2 separate regions of the Homo sapiens genome follow, and region 2 is linked to region 1. Evidence: fine-mapped expression QTL. Tissue or cell type: whole blood. Region 1 holds a variant in brackets; the other region holds the start of a gene. All regions are shown on one strand. Distances are between the middles of the regions.

The links. PIP is the estimated chance that this variant, and not a neighbour inherited with it, causes the effect.
Region 2: it holds the start of CX3CR1, and the variant in region 1 is fine-mapped to the expression of CX3CR1 in whole blood (TOPMed, PIP above 0.99).

What each region holds. Positions count from the first base shown.
Region 1 is chr3:39,214,368-39,219,560 of GRCh38, forward strand. It overlaps DSTNP4 (DSTN pseudogene 4), which reads left to right. Exons shown (of 2, transcript XM_047449432.1): 2 at 1-305. The coding sequence ends at 305. Among named protein-coding and RNA genes, the nearest start is that of DSTNP4, 4.2 kb to the left of the region's middle. The variant C/T (reference allele first, on the strand shown) is at 2,034.
Region 2 is chr3:39,277,098-39,282,290 of GRCh38, forward strand. CX3CR1 (C-X3-C motif chemokine receptor 1) reads right to left here and starts at 2,939. Exons shown (of 2, transcript NM_001337.4): 1 at 2,857-2,939.

The DNA.
Region 1 (5,193 bases):
ATATTGGTGTAACCATAACTGGTCCTTTCAAGCACTTTGTGGGAATGCTTCCTGAAAAAGATTGCTGCTATGCTTTATATGATGCAAGCTTTGAAACGAAGAAATCCGGAAGAGTATTGTTTGTTTGTTTGTTTTTGTGGGCACCAGAACTACCACCTCTGAAAAGTAAAATGATCTTCACAAGCTGTAAGGATGCAATCAAAAAGAAATTTCAAGCAAATGGACCAGAAGATCTCAACTGGGCTTGTATTGCTGAAAAGTTAGATGGGTACTTAATTGCAGCTTTTGAAGGATGCTCTGTGTAGGCCATCATTCAGTGCCACAAATGGAAAGCTTCCATGTTTAATGTTATCCGCTTGCTATATAAATAAAGCAAACATATGTTTTTAAAAAAGAGAAAACAAGAGTAGTGCTCAGATAGAATGTGTAGCTCATGGAATTCAGTACTGGGAGTCATGTTTAGTTCCTGGTGTGTGCATTTGCTAAACAGGATTCCACTAAACAGCCAAGGATACATACCCTCTTTTAATTAAATAATAGAAGCCACATGAGCATTGTCTTAGAGTTTGGGGAGAAAATGTGTAACCCTAGAAATTATGCCCATTCGTGTATTATCAATGTGTACAAGTCACAGAAAGACATTTTGGAAAGTATATTGCCCAGGAACTTTTTCTGAAAAGGGTGATATGGCTGAAAGGATTCAGCCAAAAGAAAACTAAATTCAAGTAAAATAAATTAAAAATAAAACGAAGAGAGCTTCTATAATAAAGAAGCATTTTCTGTGAAGAGGCATTTATGTAACTATTGATAACAATGAAACCCAGTTATAAATAGTTAAATCTAAATATTTCTGATAATATGAAAAAGAAAGAGGTTTGATGTGAAAAATTAGTAAGGAATTAAACATACATATTTTTCCAACACTTCGAGTCATATGGGGGGAGAAGTTACAGTGTCCAGAATTTTGATGATCTGAGAGGTAAAGAGTTATTTAAACAAAAATAGTTGTTAGGCTGGGCACAGTGGCTCACGCCTGTAATCCCAACACTTTGGGAGGCTGAGGTGGGTGGATCACTTGAGGTCAGGAGTTCGAGACCAGCCTGGCCAACATGGTGAAACCCCGCCTCTACTAAAAATACAAAAATTGGTTGGGCATGGTGGTGCGTGCCTGTAATCCCAGCTACTCAGGTGGCTGAGGGATGAGAATCACTTGAATGCGGGAGGGAGGTTGCGTGAGCAGAGATTGCGCCACTGCAATCCAGACTGGGTGACAGAGCAAGACTCTGTTTCAAAAGAAACAGTTGTGGAAGTGATAAATGCACAAGGTAAAGACATTTGAACCTGAGAAAAGGCGTGCAATTAAGAGTAATGAAAGGTAAACCTTCATCCTGGGCTTTCCCTTCATTGCTCTTCTGAGATGGATTCACTCTTTCCTGCCCTTGTCTTTCTTTGATTTCCTTATTTTGTTGGAACACATCCTAAATACGATGAAAGGTATGTTTATTCTACCATTTTGCTGTATTGGTGATTGAGCTAGGTCTAGAATTCTAGAACTTTAAAGGCTTGCTTTTTATTTTCCAGCCCCCAGGATTGCTGATGGCATTCTGACACCTTTTTGTGTGTGTGTGTGACAGCTTTTACTGCTGTTATCATTTTTGTGTGTGTGCCTGAAGACTTTAAGATTGCCTCTTCATTTTTGGTGTTCTGAAACTTGACCATGACGTGTCTGGTTGTAGGTCTTTTTTCCATTCAGCCTATTTAGTAATTGGGGAGGGGAGCTTTGAGTGTCTTCAGTCACCTATGTGAATTAACCCAGCCCTTTTTCTTCAAATATAAATGGGCCACCATGGACCACCAGACATTTCTGCAAAACCAACAGTAAAATTGAGAAGGACTAAGATGAACAAACAGGAAAAAAAAAAAAAACAGATAGCATTAAGGGAACTGAAAGTTGTAAAGTGCTGACTGGTCTCTCTCTCTAAATCCATGACCACTGAAACCTCAAGTAGCTCAGAGTGCTGCTCAGCAGCTGT[C/T]CTTCTTTCCCCATTCCATCTGCTCCCCTAGGCGATGCCTTTATAGCTTACCTCTTTCAGACCTCCAGTGCAGTCTCCCCATGCCACCTCAGCTGATTACCTTGCTCCTTACTTTCTTGAGAATTAGAAGTGCCAGAAGAGAATTTTCATGAGCTCCCATTGCCAGATCCACTCAGTCTCCTGACCCAGTACCCACATGCCTTGTCTTCCTTCCTATTTGTGTGCAGTAATTGTCTCTACTCTTAGCTCAGGCTGGCTCTTTCCCTGAAGCCCTAGATCCTAACCTCTCTCCGCTTCTTAAGAACATGGCTTCACCATTCTCTGCCTTCTCTCCTGAATCATCATTTCTCCCCTCTCTACTGTATTATTCCCATCTGCAAACATGCTGTTATTTTTCACATCTTAAAAAACCACAAAAAGCATTTCCACCTTCCCCTCCAGCTACTGCCTTTCGTCTCCCATTGTCTCTCTCTCTGTCTCTCTTTTTGAGACGGAGTCTCACTCTGTCACCCAGGCTGCAGTGCAGTGGCGCAAACTTGGCTCACTGCAATCTCTGCCCCCTGGGTTCAAGCGATTCTCCTGCCTCAGCCTTCCAAGTAGCTGGGACTACAGGCACACGTCACCATGCTCAGTTAATTTTTGTATTTTTAGTAGAGACAGAGTTTCACCATGTTGGCCAGACTGGTCTTGAACTCCTGACCTCAAGTGATCTGCCCACCTTGGCCTCCCAAAGTGCTGAGATTAGTCTTGAGCCACAGTGCCCACCCCCATTCTCCTTTAATCAAGATTTTGCCCCCACCACTCTACCCAAACAAATCTTGTCAAGTTCAACAATGACCTCCTTATAACTAGACCCAAAGGTCAATTTGCAGGCCCCAGATTCCACTGGATGCAGGGAATCATGCCACCTACCTTGAAGCACCATCTTTACTTGGCTTCCAGGACCCCTGCACTCTCCTGGTTTGCCTCTGATCTCACTGGCAGCTCCTTCTCACTCTCTATTGGTGGTTCTCCCTCCACTGTCCACCCTCCTAATATTGGGATCTCCAGGACTCAGTTCTTGATCTATTCTCTTCTTTATCTACACTTCATGAATTTCTTTTTAAAGTCCATGTATATATAATATCTATAATCCTAACTTCTTTCCTCTGATCTCAAGGCTCATGTATTTCACTGCCTTGTAACATCCCCTTTTGGATCATAGGCATCTTATGCTTAGAAAGTCCCAAATTGAGCTCTTGACCTACCCCTTACCTCCAAAATAGCTTCTTCCACAGTCCCCCTCATCCCTCAGTAAATGCTAATTCAGGTCTCCTAGTACTCAATCTGAGAACACAGGAATCTTCTCTTTTCCTCACTTGACACATCCCATGCATTATGTATTATATAAAACTTACCCATTATATATCCAGAATCTGACATCTCATAATCATCTCCATTTAGCTGGTCCAAGCTATCATCGTTTCACACCAGAACCTTCTGAAATAGTCTCCTAACCAGAGTAGCCAGCTTGTCACAGTTTGCCTGGTACTTTCCCAGTTTTTGCACTGAAAGTCCAGTCTCAGGAAATCCCTCAGCCCTGGGCAAACCAGGATTATTGATTATCCTACTTCCAACTGGAATCTTCTCTTCTTCCGTTGCCTCCTTACAGTCTATTTTCAATACAGCTAGGGTGATTCTTTTAAAATGCAAATTTTATTATGTCACTTCTCTGTTCAAAACCCTTCAATGGCTTCCTACCCAACTTAGAAAGAAAGCTATTGCTTTCAGTGGCCCACAAGACTATAGGATCCACAGGCTTGTAGGAAAAGATGGAGAATTCAGCTTTGAGCAGGCTGATATTGCAGTACTGTGGAATGTTCAACTGGCAATGTCCAAAATTGAATGGAGTATCAAGAATATCTTCTGTTTGGAAAACAAAAATAGATTGCTATGGAAAAACTTGCAAGAAAGAATTCTAGGAAATTAGAAATATTTGTTAAAATGAAAAAAATCAACGGTAGACCTGAAAGACAAAATTATAGATGCTCTGTCTGGTGATACTAATGATATATTCATAAGTAATATGCATATGATATAGTTATATATTATGTAAGATAAAAATATATAAAATACATATAAATAAATTTATTAAAAAATACATTTGCAACATGATGCACCAAATTCCCAAAATCTTCAGCATGCATCTTTCCAAACCAAGGACACTCTTCTACATAACCAGCATACAACTCTTCCAGTCAGGAAATAAGAAATCAGCTCTAACACTAACATCTAATCCAAAGAATATATTCATATTTTGCCAGCTGTCCTAACAGTGTCTCTTTCCTGTCTAGGCCAGGATCACACTTTGTACTTCATACACAAGTCTCTTTAGTCTCTTTCAATCTGGAATAATTCCTTGGTCTCTCCCTGTTTTTCATGATCTCATTAGTTTGAAAGAGTGCAGACCTTTCAGTCTCTAGGACGAAGCTCAGCCTGGTTCCACCAATGTTTCCTCAGGACTGGATTCACATTTGTGTTCTGGGAGTGCCGAAGCTCAGCCTGGTTCTACCCATATTTTGTCAGGACTGGGTTCACACATGTGTTCTTGGAGTGCCAAAGCTCAGCCTGGTTCCAGCAGTGTTTCCTCAGGACTGGGTTCACACATGTGTTCTGGGAGTGCTATACGGAAGGGAGGCTGTCCTCTTCTCACTGCATCACACGAGGGGGCATACAACGTGGGCTTGTCCCTACACTGGTGATGTTCATCTTTAGCACCTGGTCATTTTGTGTCAGGTTTCTCCACATTAACTCATCAATTTTCTATTTGTAATTGATGAACATTTTGTGGGAAGATATTCTCAAACTATGCCAATATCTTGTATCCCATTAAATCTCCACTAACTTGACTTAGTAGTTATTGATTACTTTTGCCTGAATTAACCACCATTATGGCGGTTGTAAATGGTGGTTTATCCATTATCATCATTCCTACGATATATATTAGCTGCTATGCTACTATAAGGAAGACATTTCCCTTTTCCTCCACTTACTTTTTTACTTTTTAAAAAAATTACTCATACTCAATCCTCTACTTATTTTTATTGACATAGACTCATGGATTCCTATTTTATTCAGCAGATTTAATCCATTACCATCAGTATTTATTTTAATATCAAAT
Region 2 (5,193 bases), 63 kb after region 1:
ACTTTAAGGGGAAAACAAAGGTGGTCTAGGAAGATGTTTAAAGACATATGATACAGCTTTTCTTCCTTACTCACAAGCTAAAAAGCTGCACTTTGGCCAAACAAGATGAGGGGGTCGAAGCATCAGCTGTGGCCAGCGTGCCGTGAGAATCCCACCTGTGAAGCAGCCAGCAGATTCTGAGCCCCTCAAGAGGGCAGGTGGGATCAAGGTTCAGCTAGAAGCCCCAACTTTCCCCTGGCTCTTCTGGGCAGAGTGAGTGATGCCAGAGAGCCCAACTTCTCGGAATGCCTGGGCTGTGCTGCTAGGAATCAGAACAAGTCCTTGGGAAAGGCAGCCAAGATCTGGATTCTGCCATTCTGGTTCCACTCCCTCCTATGACCGTGACCTGCTGTGGAGCAGCAGAAGTTCCCCTCCTTGTTCAGCTCCTCCATTACAGGTGCTGGTTCCAAACGTCTCTGGACTCAGGATACTGGGTCAGAGGCTGGGGCTGGGGAGGAGCAGTTGGATGCCTGGATCCCAAGAAGGAGGTTTTTTGAGGCTAGGGTCTCTGGCTAGGGAGAACCATACCTGACATTGCCACTGTGCCATAGCTGCCTAGGGCCGGGCAGGCTTCCTCCTGGGATGGGGTGGGGTGAGGAAGGGGATAGACGATCGTCCTGACTGGGTCAGCTCTAATACGTTCTTTGCTTTCCTGCCCCTACAGCTCTGGATTCTTCACAACCTCATTCAATAGTAGTCAGTGTTTTTCAGGTATCCAAACTTTCTGAGGCTCAGTTTCCTCATGACAACAACATATATCGTTTCTTGAGCATCAAAGATGGGTCAGGCAGTGTGTTTGGGACTTCCTATACCATGCCTTTAATCCTTGCAGAAAGTTGACACATACCCATTACATGGCTTCAAAGGCTGATGGACAATCTCCATTTTAAAAGCAGGAAACAGACTTAGCAAGCCCAGTGCACAGTCACCAAGTGCAGAGCCAGGACTTCATTCCTGACTTCATTCCTTCATTCCAAAGCCAAGCTGCCTATGTCCCCATCTGTGAAGTGGGGCCAGCTGAGGAGCAGGGTTCAGGAGCAGACTTTGTGGAGACTGGCACGTGGCTGATGGATAGTAGGTGCTCCCATCCCAGAGGTGTGGCAAGTGCCAGGTAAGCCTGAGCACTAAGAAGAACCACACTGAAGTTGGGCTGAGACTATTTCCTGCCCTGCCTTCCTTTGTGAAAATAAAGCCAAGCAAAGAGGAAGATGAAAGAATCCACCCTAGCCTTCCTGAGCCCATTTCTCATTCCCAGGGGTTTTGAACCCCAATCCACTGCCCCCATTCCCAACCCACAGTGGTCCTCAAGGCTCTCCAGCACAGGTCCGTCACCCACCCTGCCTCCTCTCAGGAAACCCAGCTCCCTCCAAAGCGCCCTCTGGGCCTGGGATGCCCTGAGCAATGCAAGCTTTCTTGCCTGCTTTCACGTGGTTCAATTTTCCTTTTTTTTTGGCTCAATTTTTTTCTGCCTCAAGTTTTCTACCTCAAGTATTTCAAAAATTAATTTTTTTTTCTTTTCTTTTTTTTTTTTTTTTTTGTGGAGTGGGTGTTGAAAGAATCCTAAACTTTCTTAGCCATTCTCTGGACTGAGCTATAAACTCACAAAGCAAGGATTGCAGGCTCTGTGAGGCTGTGATTGCCAGAGGCAAGGCAAGAGAAATAACAAGCCGTGGTCAGTCCTCAGCTGGGGCCTCTGATGGATTTCCTCCTGTCTTGCACTCATAATTTCTTTCTGAAGACCATGTTTTCCACCCACACAAACCTGAGCCTGAGTATCCTCACAATGGTTATAACAACATATATCAAAATTGAACACTAAATTTGTGCCAGGAATTTATTAATGGAGAAACCCCGCCTCTACTAAAAATACAAAATTAGCCGGGCGGTGGTACATGCCTATAATCCCAGCTACTTGGGAGGCTGAGGCAGGAGAATCACTTGAACCCAGGAGGCAGAGGTTGCAGTGAGCCGAGACTGTGCCATTGCACTCCAGCTTAGGCAACAAGAGCAAAACTCCGTCTCAAAAAACAAAACACAAACAAGAAAGAAAACCCAAAAAACAAAAAACAAACAAAAACCCATAGATGGTACAAAAAGTGGAAGAAAAAGGAAAAAAAAACCCATGAAACTATCTGCAATGCAGTTTCCTAGAATCAACCACAGTAATCTTTTAGCTTTTCTCTATCTAAATGTTATACATATTTTATATTTATATTAAGTGCATTTATATTTATATTAAAATACAGATACAAATTTAAAAACTCTTTATTATTAAATTTTCAAATAAAAAGCAACTTTTCAAATAAAAGCAGCGAGAACCTCCTTATACCCAACACCTGGCTTCAACTATTAGCAACCCATGGTCAATATTTCCTCTATTTCCCACTTAATGTCTCTACTGAATTATTTAATTTCACCCATAAACACTTGTGTGCATCTCTAAAAGTTAAGGACTCTTTTTTGAAAAAGACTTTAATACAATTTCTCATCTCAAAAAATTAGCAATAATTCCTCAACAGCATCCAGATGCAATTTTTCATGCTTTTTTCAGTTAGTTTAAAATCATGAGCTTTTCTCCATGTCTCTAAAATGTAATTACTAATGCTTCTAATACTATTCCACCAGGTTGAGTGTATTATAAATGATCTGATCACCCCTTGCCTCCCACTCTTCCATCCCCTTGGACATATTTAGGCTACAACATCCCCAGGAAAATGGTTTCCATTGTCTGCACGTAAGCAAACAGGCATTATTAACCTATTAGCTGTCCACTGCTCCACCCCACCCACAGGTACCCAACTAGTCCTGTGCACCTACCTGGCGTGGACTGCCAAGGGAACCTCTGGATCTGCCAGTCAGCCACCCTGTCCTGCTCAGACTTTACCAGAGACGAGTATTTCCCTTTCCTTCCCTCTAAGAGCATTTTATTTGCAGAGTTAGCCAATAGTATCTTGTTTCCTGTAAGGGAGACTATCTTTAGATGCTGCCACAGGCAAGCTCAGATACTCCAGGGTGGAGGCCAGCTGCCAACAGGAGGGCCTGACTTTATAAACCTGGAAGATCTAAACCTCAGGGAAGACTGCGGAGCTGGAGGGAGAGAGGTGCCACTTACCCCAACCTGGAGGTGGGGGGCAGGGAGCAGGCCCTGCAGTCAGCAAAGCACAGCACAGTCAGCTCTCATTAATGGGGAGCCTTCAGGAAGCTGGGAGAGCTCATGGGGCCCTCAGCTTCCCTGCCCACGAGAGGGAGCCCAGAGTACTCACTGGACCACACTGGGGCACACACAGCTCTTCTCCTCAAAGTGCAGTCCCAGGCACTGGGAGCTTATTAAAGACAGCACCTCAAGCCCTGCCCTATATCTGCTGAATTAGAATCTGCATTTTAATGAAATTCTTAGAAGAGTGATATGCATACTAAGTTTGAGAAGCTTTGGTACTGAAGGCATCTAGTGAGTACCTTGCACCTTGTAGATGCTCGGTAAATATTTTTTTCCTCACCTCTCTGCCCCAAGGCATTTAGTGGCTCCCTATACCCATCAGTCAAGGCTGAGGACACAGCTTTCACCCAGGACCTGGCCTATGCTCCTTTCACAGTCTCTCCCCCTGCCACTCTTGCCCTGCAGTGGGGAGCCTGGTGGGCTCCGGCATCCAGCCATGCTTCTGCTCCCTGGCCTGGCCAGCTTGGGGCGACTGCAACGTGAATCTCAACTGCCACTGCCTCATCACCTTCCGATCACTTCATTACCTGCCTGACCCCTGGCATATGCTATATAATTCTGATCCATCCCTAACTAGGGCCTGGCCCATGGTGGCCTTCAATACACCTTCATTAAATGGTCTGTGACCCCTTCAAGGCCCCTCTGGCCCCTTGCTGCCCACATCCCAGCCACATCCGGTGCTCCCTTACCTCTAGTCGCTGTGGTGTTCCGAGGACAGCGGGTGCTCTGTGTGCTCCCCACCTTGCCCCTCCTCACCTCCCCCAACCCCAGGACAGAGCTGGGGGCTGCAGTGCAGTGCTGCGGGCTTGGTGGCCTGCTCATGGTGGAAGAAGTCCACCAGCAGTTTTCTTTCTTTGTTCTTGGTCTCAGTGTTTGGCCACCTTTCCCTGCCTTTGGCCAGAAGGCCACAGGACAAAAGCAGAGTCAGGCCGCTCCCCATCCACTTTCTGACACTGGCCCCTCCCCACCCCACACCACCCCTTGATACCTCTCCTGGGGTCCACTCAGCTGGGCTGGCTGCCTCAGCCCCTTCCTTGCCTCTGACTCCCCTCCTCTTCTGAGGGCTCCTTTCTTGGATCTGGCCAAGACTCTCCCTCTCTTCCTGTCCCACACTCTTGACGACAGTCTCATCCACCCCACATCAGTAATCCCCTCCGTGTTCATGAGCACACATCTCTACCTCCATCCAGGGCCTGGATAATTTCCCAAGCCCATCTAACCTTCTCCGTTCTCTGTCTTTCCTCTCACCACTTACCCCACTGGCCATTCTCCACCCAGAAGCCAGAGAGCTCTTCCTGAAATCCAAGTCTGCCAACTTAAACGCCTCCAGGGGTTCTCTCATCCTGGTTTAAGTCCACGGCCTGGTAAGCACGGCCCGCCCCTTCTCACTTCCTACTGTGCTCTCACCACTTCCACTTCCCCCAACATGCCTGTGCCCGTGGCAGGCTCTCTTCCCTTCCCAACTCACCTGGCTGTCCTGTCCAGGACGTGATTTTACCCTCTTTTAAAGCTAACGGCTATGTTCCACAGCTGCTAGCAGCACAGGGCTTCATGCTTGGCAAGCATGAGAACCAGCGTCCAGTGTCAGTTGCCTTGCCCCCAAGCCCCACAGAGTGATGCCATGGCTTGGATAGATACCTGTGAATGTGTGAGGGATGGGGAGGTTATAGGAAGGGAACTCTGACCTTGGGTAACGTGCCATTTTATAGCAAGCAGTAAGCAAGTCGGTTATTTGGCCCTGAGCGAGATGTCAGCTCATCCTTCAAGGTTGCTCACTGCAAACTCAACCCTGCAAGATGGACCAAGTGAAGAGCATTAGTGCTTTGCATTCTTGACACACTCATGGAGACAGAAAGAGCCTTGGCAGCCTTCCCCCTCCCTCCACGCCTCCTTGGGCCTCTGTAAAGGAGTCTCTGGCTCAGCGCTGGGAATTCTCT